Homo sapiens: one gene and its partner. The protein of the gene in region 2 purifies or fractionates together with the protein of the main gene of each other region. This does not show direct contact. Each region holds a gene or a part of one and is shown on either strand. Other genes may lie near its edges.

The links.
Region 1: the proteins of HSPA12B (region 2) and PPM1E purify together in Homo sapiens (affinity purification with mass spectrometry; one large-scale study listed by BioGRID and IntAct). This does not show direct contact.

What each region holds. Positions count from the first base shown.
Region 1 is NC_000017.11:58,758,590-58,762,411, reverse strand, and holds part of PPM1E (protein phosphatase 1E), read right to left. Parts: intron 1-3,822. UniProt on the Homo sapiens protein: Protein phosphatase that inactivates multifunctional CaM kinases such as CAMK4 and CAMK2. Dephosphorylates and inactivates PAK. May play a role in the inhibition of actin fiber stress breakdown and in morphological changes driven by TNK2/CDC42.
Region 2 is NC_000020.11:3,735,655-3,739,476, reverse strand, and holds part of HSPA12B (heat shock 70 kDa protein 12B), read right to left. Parts: intron 3,210-3,822; exon of another isoform or gene 3,137-3,209; coding exon of another isoform or gene 3,134-3,136; intron 3,087-3,133; exon of another isoform or gene 3,045-3,086; intron 820-3,044; coding exon of another isoform or gene 803-819; coding exon 760-802; intron 1-759.

The DNA of each region.
Region 1 (3,822 bases), on a different chromosome or scaffold from region 2:
GGTTCACTGCAACCTCAACCTCCTGGGCTCAAGCAGTCCTCCCATCTCAGCCTCCTGAGTAGCTGAACTAAGTTTTGTAGAGACGGGGCCTTGCCATGTTGCCCAGTCTGGTCTCGAACTCCAAGACTCAAGCAATCTGCCTGCCTCAGCCTCCCAAAGTGTTGGGATTACAGGAATGAGCCACCAAGCCCAGCCATCTTCACAGGAACTTTTAAAGCCAATTTTCCATTTCATGAGGGCTAATTTTGTTAAAACCAGGAAATATAATCCATAAATCTATTTACTCAGGCACAGATAAACTGTAATAGTTTGTAATGGCCTAAAAATTGGAGAAAGGATGCCACGGTCAACCCCCATAAGCTGTGGAATTTGCACTCCCTCAGAATACCACACTTACCATGCTTCACATGAAATCAGTCGTCATACAGAACAAGTTGCCAATCTCAATAAACATGTCAAATATTTATAGCACTTAATTTCGTATGTTATACACAAATAAACAGATGATAATGTTTTCTTCCTTTGCCGAAATGAAGTATTTTAGGTGCAATTGACTTTGGAGACCTCTGGTCTAGTGACGGAGATATAAATATTTGCTGACAAAAAATAATAAATTAAACCAAGTACTTACAAGAGGAATGGCATTGGGTATTATGGAAAGGAACGTAGAAGGGACCCCTAACTCATGATGAGTGTGAGGACGGTAAGCAAAGGCTTCCTCAAGGAAGAGGTGTTAAACAGAGAACTAAAAAACGGGTAAGAAATTGGATTGTGTTGGGAGTGGCTATTGGGGGAACATAGTATTCCAAGCAGAGGGAAAAATATACTATGTGCAAAGGTGCAGAGGCAAAAGATAACACAATACCTTCAAAGAAATACATTAGTTTAATATAGCTGAAGTGTAGTTTCTGGAGGGGTAGAGCTGGGATGAAGTGGGTGGATAGTGATTCCAGAAATAAAACTAATGAAGTAAGATTATAAGCCCTTACCTTTGGATTTTATCTAGAGGGCAAAAGAGAGATAGGTGATGAAGGATGTGGAGTAAAAAACTTGTCCAAAGAGAGGTCCAGATGTTGCCCCCAGCTCCTGGGAGGTAACCTCTAAGCCCCTGGAATTTCTGGAGTAATATGAGTATTCTTACTATTCATGATGGGTCCCTTGAACCACATAGTATCAGCCTAACCTCTGGAGAGGGGAGACTGGAAACTGAGTTCAACCATGCAAACAATCAATAAATCTCAATGAAAACTCTGCTGAGGTAAGAAGATCATTTGAGCCAGGAGTTTGAATCCAGCGTAGGGAATATAGTGAGACCCCATCTCTTTAAAAAACAAAACACAAACTCCAGACACACTAAAGTTTAGGTGAACTTCTTGGGTGGGCAATACCTTGTGTGTATTTCCATACATCCACACATTCATGCTGGGAGGGTATGGAAGGTATATTCCCTGAGAACAATGGAAGTTTCATATCTGCAACCCTCTTAGACTATACCCTAGGCATCTCTCTTCCTTTGACTAATTTGTAGCTTGTCTTTGTAATGAACTGTATCTCTAAGTATAATAGCTTTCAGTGAGTTCTATGAGTTTTTCTAGTGCATTACTGAATCTGAGGGTGGTTTGGGGAAACCCCCAAACTTGCAGTTGATGTTAGAAGTGAGGTTTTGCATAGCATCTTCATTTGAAATTTGTAGTTGCACCCTAACCCCTTACAATAGGATCAGAAGTCTTGAGCAGACTTGGCAGAGTAGAAGACTGTGCCCTTAACCTTAGAGTTTGGCTAACTCTGGGTAAAGGGTAAAAATGTTTAAGCAGTGTGACAATTAAACATTTTGGCTACACTGGGGAAAATATATTGCAGAAGGGTAAGACTGGCAAGAGATGACAATGACAGTGGGAATGAAGAAAGACATATTTAAGAGGTATTTACGAGGTAGAATTAACAAGATGTGACTGAATGTGAGAGGTGAAAGGAGAAGTCAGGGAAAGGAGAAGTCAGGGATGGACCCACCAGAAAGAGTATCAGGTTTTGGTTTTGTTTGTTTTGGGGGCCGTAAAGAGGGTTGGAGGACTGAATTCTGTTTTAGACAGTTTAATCTGAGGAAATTTTGACATCTAGGTAAAGCTGTTCTAGCAGTCAAAGAAAGGATGGAGATAGAGTTGGGAGCCTTTAGCATAACTACAATAACTGAAGTCATGTGACAGATTGATATTGACTAGGGACAAATAAGTCAACCAGACAAAAGAAGGTCAAGGACAGAACACCAATATTAAAGGGGTAGGCAGAATATTAAAAGCTCACAGAGAAGAAGTGGGATAGCCTGAGAAGCAGGAGAAAAACCTGGAAAGCATGATTAACAATGAATGGTATTTTTCCTCTTTTTGCTTATGTGAATGTTCTCCACTTCTTTATTTAATAAATGTGAACGTTTATTATTTTTGAATGAGAAAAAAATGTGCAACTTAAAAATTGGTATTATATAACATGAATCCATATATTTTTCCATTTATATATTTGTAAATTAGATAAAGTTTAATGATTTTCTGACCTAATCCAAAGTCATTAATGATTCACACAATTCAATGTAACTGAATTATTAGTGTCTATAACCAGCGATTTTCTTTTCCAAGCCATTTTTAAAGTGTCCACCCTCATTATTACTGCAAGCCATCTGGAACTACTTAACTGTGCCAGACTCTTGGGATATTGGTTTCCCCCTTGGGAAGTCCAACCCAGACTAAATGAATAACTGAGGAAACAACTGTTCTGAAAATATGATGACAATATAGCTCTAATAATGACTTTATCTTCGTTTAATAGTCTACTGGTAAAAAATGGAAAGAAAAAAGACTTCAGAATATTTGCTTCTTCTGGATTAAAACAAATATATGTTATCTCTAGTAGTGTATAGAGAAATTAAATACAAAATATTGACCCATATAAACTACACAGATAGCCTTATATTCACATCTCCTGTAAGATCAGTTATACCCTTATTTACAAATTATCTCAGTTATAAAATCTCTCACCTCCACCTTTTCAAAGGGCAGCCTCTCCTTAACCTCAGAAATTCTCAGATTGTCATTGAAATTATTTTAATCTCTTGGGGGATTTAAACTTAGAGAAAGGAGTAAAACGTAGGTAACTTTTTTTTTTGAGACAACGTCTCACTGTCACTCAGGCTGGAGTACAGTGGCTCACTGCAGCCTCGGCCTCCTGTGCTCAGGAAAGCCTCCCACTTCAGCCTCCCAAGTAGCTGGGACTACAGGTTCACACCACCATGCCCAGCTAAGTGTGTTTTTATTTTTTGTTTTATTTTGGTGGGGGAGTGGAAGGTGGGCGGACAAGGTCTTGTTCTGTCACCCAGGCTGGAATGGACAGCAGTAGGATCTTGGCTCACTGCAACCTCCGCCTCCTGGGTTCAAGCGATTCTTGTGGCTCAGCCTTTTGAGTAGCTGGGATTACAGGCATGCACCACCATGCCCGGCTAATTATTGTGTTTTTAGTAGAGACGGGGTTTTGCCATGTTGGACAAGATGGTCTCAAACAGGTGTTCCGCCCACCTCAGCCTCCCAAACTGCTAGGATTACAGGCATGAGCCACTGTGCCCGGCAAAAACTGTTTTTAAACCTGTTAAGGACCTTAAAGATACTTTACATGAACAAGCCAGCCATTTTATATCTGAATAAAAATACATTAACAACTTCTGTACAAAACACAATATAAATGATGAAATCTCTGATTTAAGCGGAAATATTTTCCAACTTTAATTTTGCTAGTTTTATTTCAAATCCAAACTTCTGTTCTCAACTAGATGGCCAT
Region 2 (3,822 bases):
CTGAGGAGTGTCCCTCTTGCCTCCGGCCTCCCACCCCTGCGGAGAACCCAAGCCTGCTCCCAGACCAGGCTATGGCCAGACGCACATGCACACGCAGAACTCTCTGCATGCGTGCCCACCTGCAGACTATACTCCCGTACACAGATCCTGTGCACAGAGACCTGCCCGCAGAGACACACACTCACTGATGCACTCACACGGGGTCCTGTGCACATGGCCTGAACAAAACACATGGACATTCAAACACTCCTGTGCACACAGACCCTCCATGCACACGCAGAACTCTCTGTATGCATGCCCACCTGCAGACTATACTCCCGTACACAGATCCCGTGCACAGAGACCTGCCCGCAGAGACACACACTCACTGACACACTCACACAGGGTCCTGTGGACAGAGCCTGAACAAAACACACGCACATGCATACACTCCTGTGTGCACAGACCCTTCTGGCACACACAAACACACGCACTCAGCCCACACTCATATACACATGAGGGTCCTGTGAATAGACCAGTCCTGTGTGCACACATACTCACATACACAGACCGGTGCACACAGACCCTTTCTGCACACACAGGGGGGTCCAGTAAACACAGACCTGCCCTGCACACATGCACACACACACACACACTCACTCACAGAAGAGCTGTTGGGAAGCTCTGTGGGAGAGGTACATTGCACAACCTGTAGGTGGGTCTCAGTGCCTGCTCGGGTGAGTGGGTGATGGGTCAGGGCAGAATGGTGGGGGTTCTTACCGATGTACAGCCCCTGCAGGCCCATCTCCGGGACAGCCAACATCCTTGCAGGCCCTGTAGCTGTCAACAGGAACAGACAAGCAGAGTGGGATTTATTTGTCCCTTTGTTCCCTCATCTGAATGCTTATTTATTTTATTTGTTTACTTTTGGCTGGAGTCCTTTGAAGCAAATCCCAGCCATCATGTTGTTTCACCCGTGAACTCTTTAATACATCTCTCCAACAGATAAAGACGTTTTAAACAATGTCATCGCAACACCATTCTCATGTCTAATGAAATTAACAGTAATTCCTTAAATCTCATCTAAAGTCCCACAGTTCCCAGCTTGTGTCAAAAAATGGCTTTACTTTCTTGGAATCAGGATCCTCCTAAATGTTTTCTGGTGCCTGCTCTGTGCCAGGTGCTGGGAGATAGTGACCCAGAGAGACACTGTCCCTGCCCTAGAAACCAACGGTCTGATGGAGGAGATAATCAGGCAAGTGATTTTGAAATGACAAGCGTTGCTGAGTGCTAGGAAGGTCAAAGTTGGATAATGCGGGGTGGGAAGAGGACATGGTAAGTCTGGACAGAGGGCTGGGCTGGGCTTACCCTGCAGGCAGGGCCTGTGCACCCTATTTCAGATTTGATTTTATATGAAGGGCAACAGCAAATCTTGAAAGGTTTGAGGTGGCAGGGTGGGGTGGGGGCATGACTCAATTTGTCTTTTCTTTTTTCTGAGACAGGGTCTCACTCTGTTGCCCAGGCTGGAATGCAGTGGCACGATCTTGGCTCACTGCAACCTCTGCCTCCCAGGTTCAAGCCATTCTCCTACCTCAGCCTCCTCAGTAGCTGGGATTACAGGTGAGTGCCTCCATGCCCAGCTAATTTTTGTATTTTTAGTAGAGACGGGGTTTCGCCGTGTTGGCCAGGCTGTTCTCGAACTCCTGACCTCAGGTGATCCGCCCACCTCGGCCTCTCAAAGTGCTGGGATTACAGGCATGAGCCACCGTGCCTGGCCTTCGTTGTTTGTTTGTTTTGAGATAGGGTGTCACTCTGTCACGAGGAGAACCTACATTTAAAGGCTGAACAGAGGAATATATACCGGCCCAGGAGACTGAGATGCCTCATGGTCTCATGAAGATTGTACCAAGAGATGGGTAAAGCTAGATCCCTGTAAAAGGTCCCCAGATGAGACTGGAAACACTGTTTTAGTGGCCCAAGGGAGGTAAGCTTAGGTGAGGAGTGAGCAAGAGGTGACATGAGCTAGAACTTCTTTTCTTAAGATGGAGTTTCACTCTGTTGCCCAGGCTGGAGTGTAGTGACGCAATCATATTGAGCTAGAATTTCTGAAAAGCTTGGCTGAAATCAGGAATACATGTGAGGGCAGTAGTTGGAGGGCGCTAAAGCTGAAGGGAGGTGAGGAAGAATATTTATTTTCTAAGATGGGAGGGGCTCGATCCTGTCTATGAAGTTCTGGGGCCAGGCTATAGGCAGGATATTTCAAACCATCAACAGCTTTGTTACTCAAAGTGTGGGCTGAGGATCAGCAGCATTGGTATCACCTGGAAGCTTGTTAGAAATGCAGAACCTCAGGCCCCAGCCCAGACCTGCTGAATCAGAACATGTATTTCATATTTATTTATTTATTTATTTATTTATTTATTTATTTATTTATTTATTTTTGAGGCAGAGTCTCACTCTGTCCCCCAGGCTGGAGTGCAGTGGCGTGATCTCAGTTCTCAGCTCACTGCAATCTCCATCTCCTGGGTTCAAGTGATTATCCTGCCTCAGCCTCCCAAGTAGCTGGGGCCACAGGCATGCGCCACCTAATTTGCCTAAAATGCCACCTAAAAATGCCTGGCTAATTTTTGTATTTTTAGTAGAGTCGGGGTTTCACCATATTGGCCAGGCTGGTCTCGAACTCCTGGCCTCAGGTGATCCGCCCGTCTCAGCCTCCCAAAGTGCTGGGATTACAGGCGTAAGCCACCGCGTCTGGCCTATTTTAACAAGATTCCCAGGTGATTCAGGTGCACATTGAAGTTTGAGAAGTGTTGCTCAACAGTGTCTCTCAGCCAGTCTGCAGACCACTGACACTATGTTCTCATTGGTGGGCCTGGCTGCTCCTCTAAACAAAGGAGGAGGCTACGCAGGGCCAATGCATTCCTTCTCTGTCACCAGCGGCCCAATCTGAAAGTTTTGCTATAGAACACAGGCAGACACAGAGCTGGCTCTGGCATGCCCATAGACACATGCACACACCCTTGCTCACACAGTTCACACAAACCAGCCCCATTGTGGACAGACACCTGGACTCCCACACACTCTTGTATGTCCAGGATTCTCCTGCATGGCCAGCACCATGGAGATTTCCAGACACTCTTGCTGTCCTCTGTACCATTGGAGTTGGATGCTCAGGAATCAGAATCAGAAGAAGGATGGGTGCTGGTTGTGGGCATGCATATAGCAGCTGGCTGTTGAGGAGAAAAGGGAAAGCACAGAGAGGGGGAGGGGAGGGTTCTTAGGAGCCAGGGGCAGGAGCCCAGAGCCCAGCTCAGGATGATGGAGTGGGATGCTGAGCTGGGTCCCACCAGCTCATGCGAGCTGATTCTTTCTATCTCTTCCCAATTCTGCATTCAATGACATCACATTGGTAGCTTCAAATCAGTCATGGCTGGGAGTATTTACAAGACAGAAATTGGCAAACACCATAAATCAGGATTTTATCCTTCTTCCAGAGCTGATTGGAAACCATTAACCAGCATACTACTGGATCAAGGTCTCGAGGGAGGAGCTGGCAGCCTTATTTGTATGTTGTTCTGATTCTTCAGCAAACACTTATCGAGATTCTTCATGCCAGGCTCTGTGCTAAGCACTGGGGAACCACTTTGTTGAATGAATGAATGGATTTTCTGGACCGAGGCTATTGTATCTGGAGGAGAAACAACCTAGAACCACCAGAAAAAAAAGACTCTGGGCCGGGCGCCGTGGCTCACTCCTGTAATCCCAGCACTTTCAGAGGCTGAGGCAGGTGGATCACCTGAGGTCAGGAATTCGAGACCAGCCTGGCCAACATGGTGAAACCTT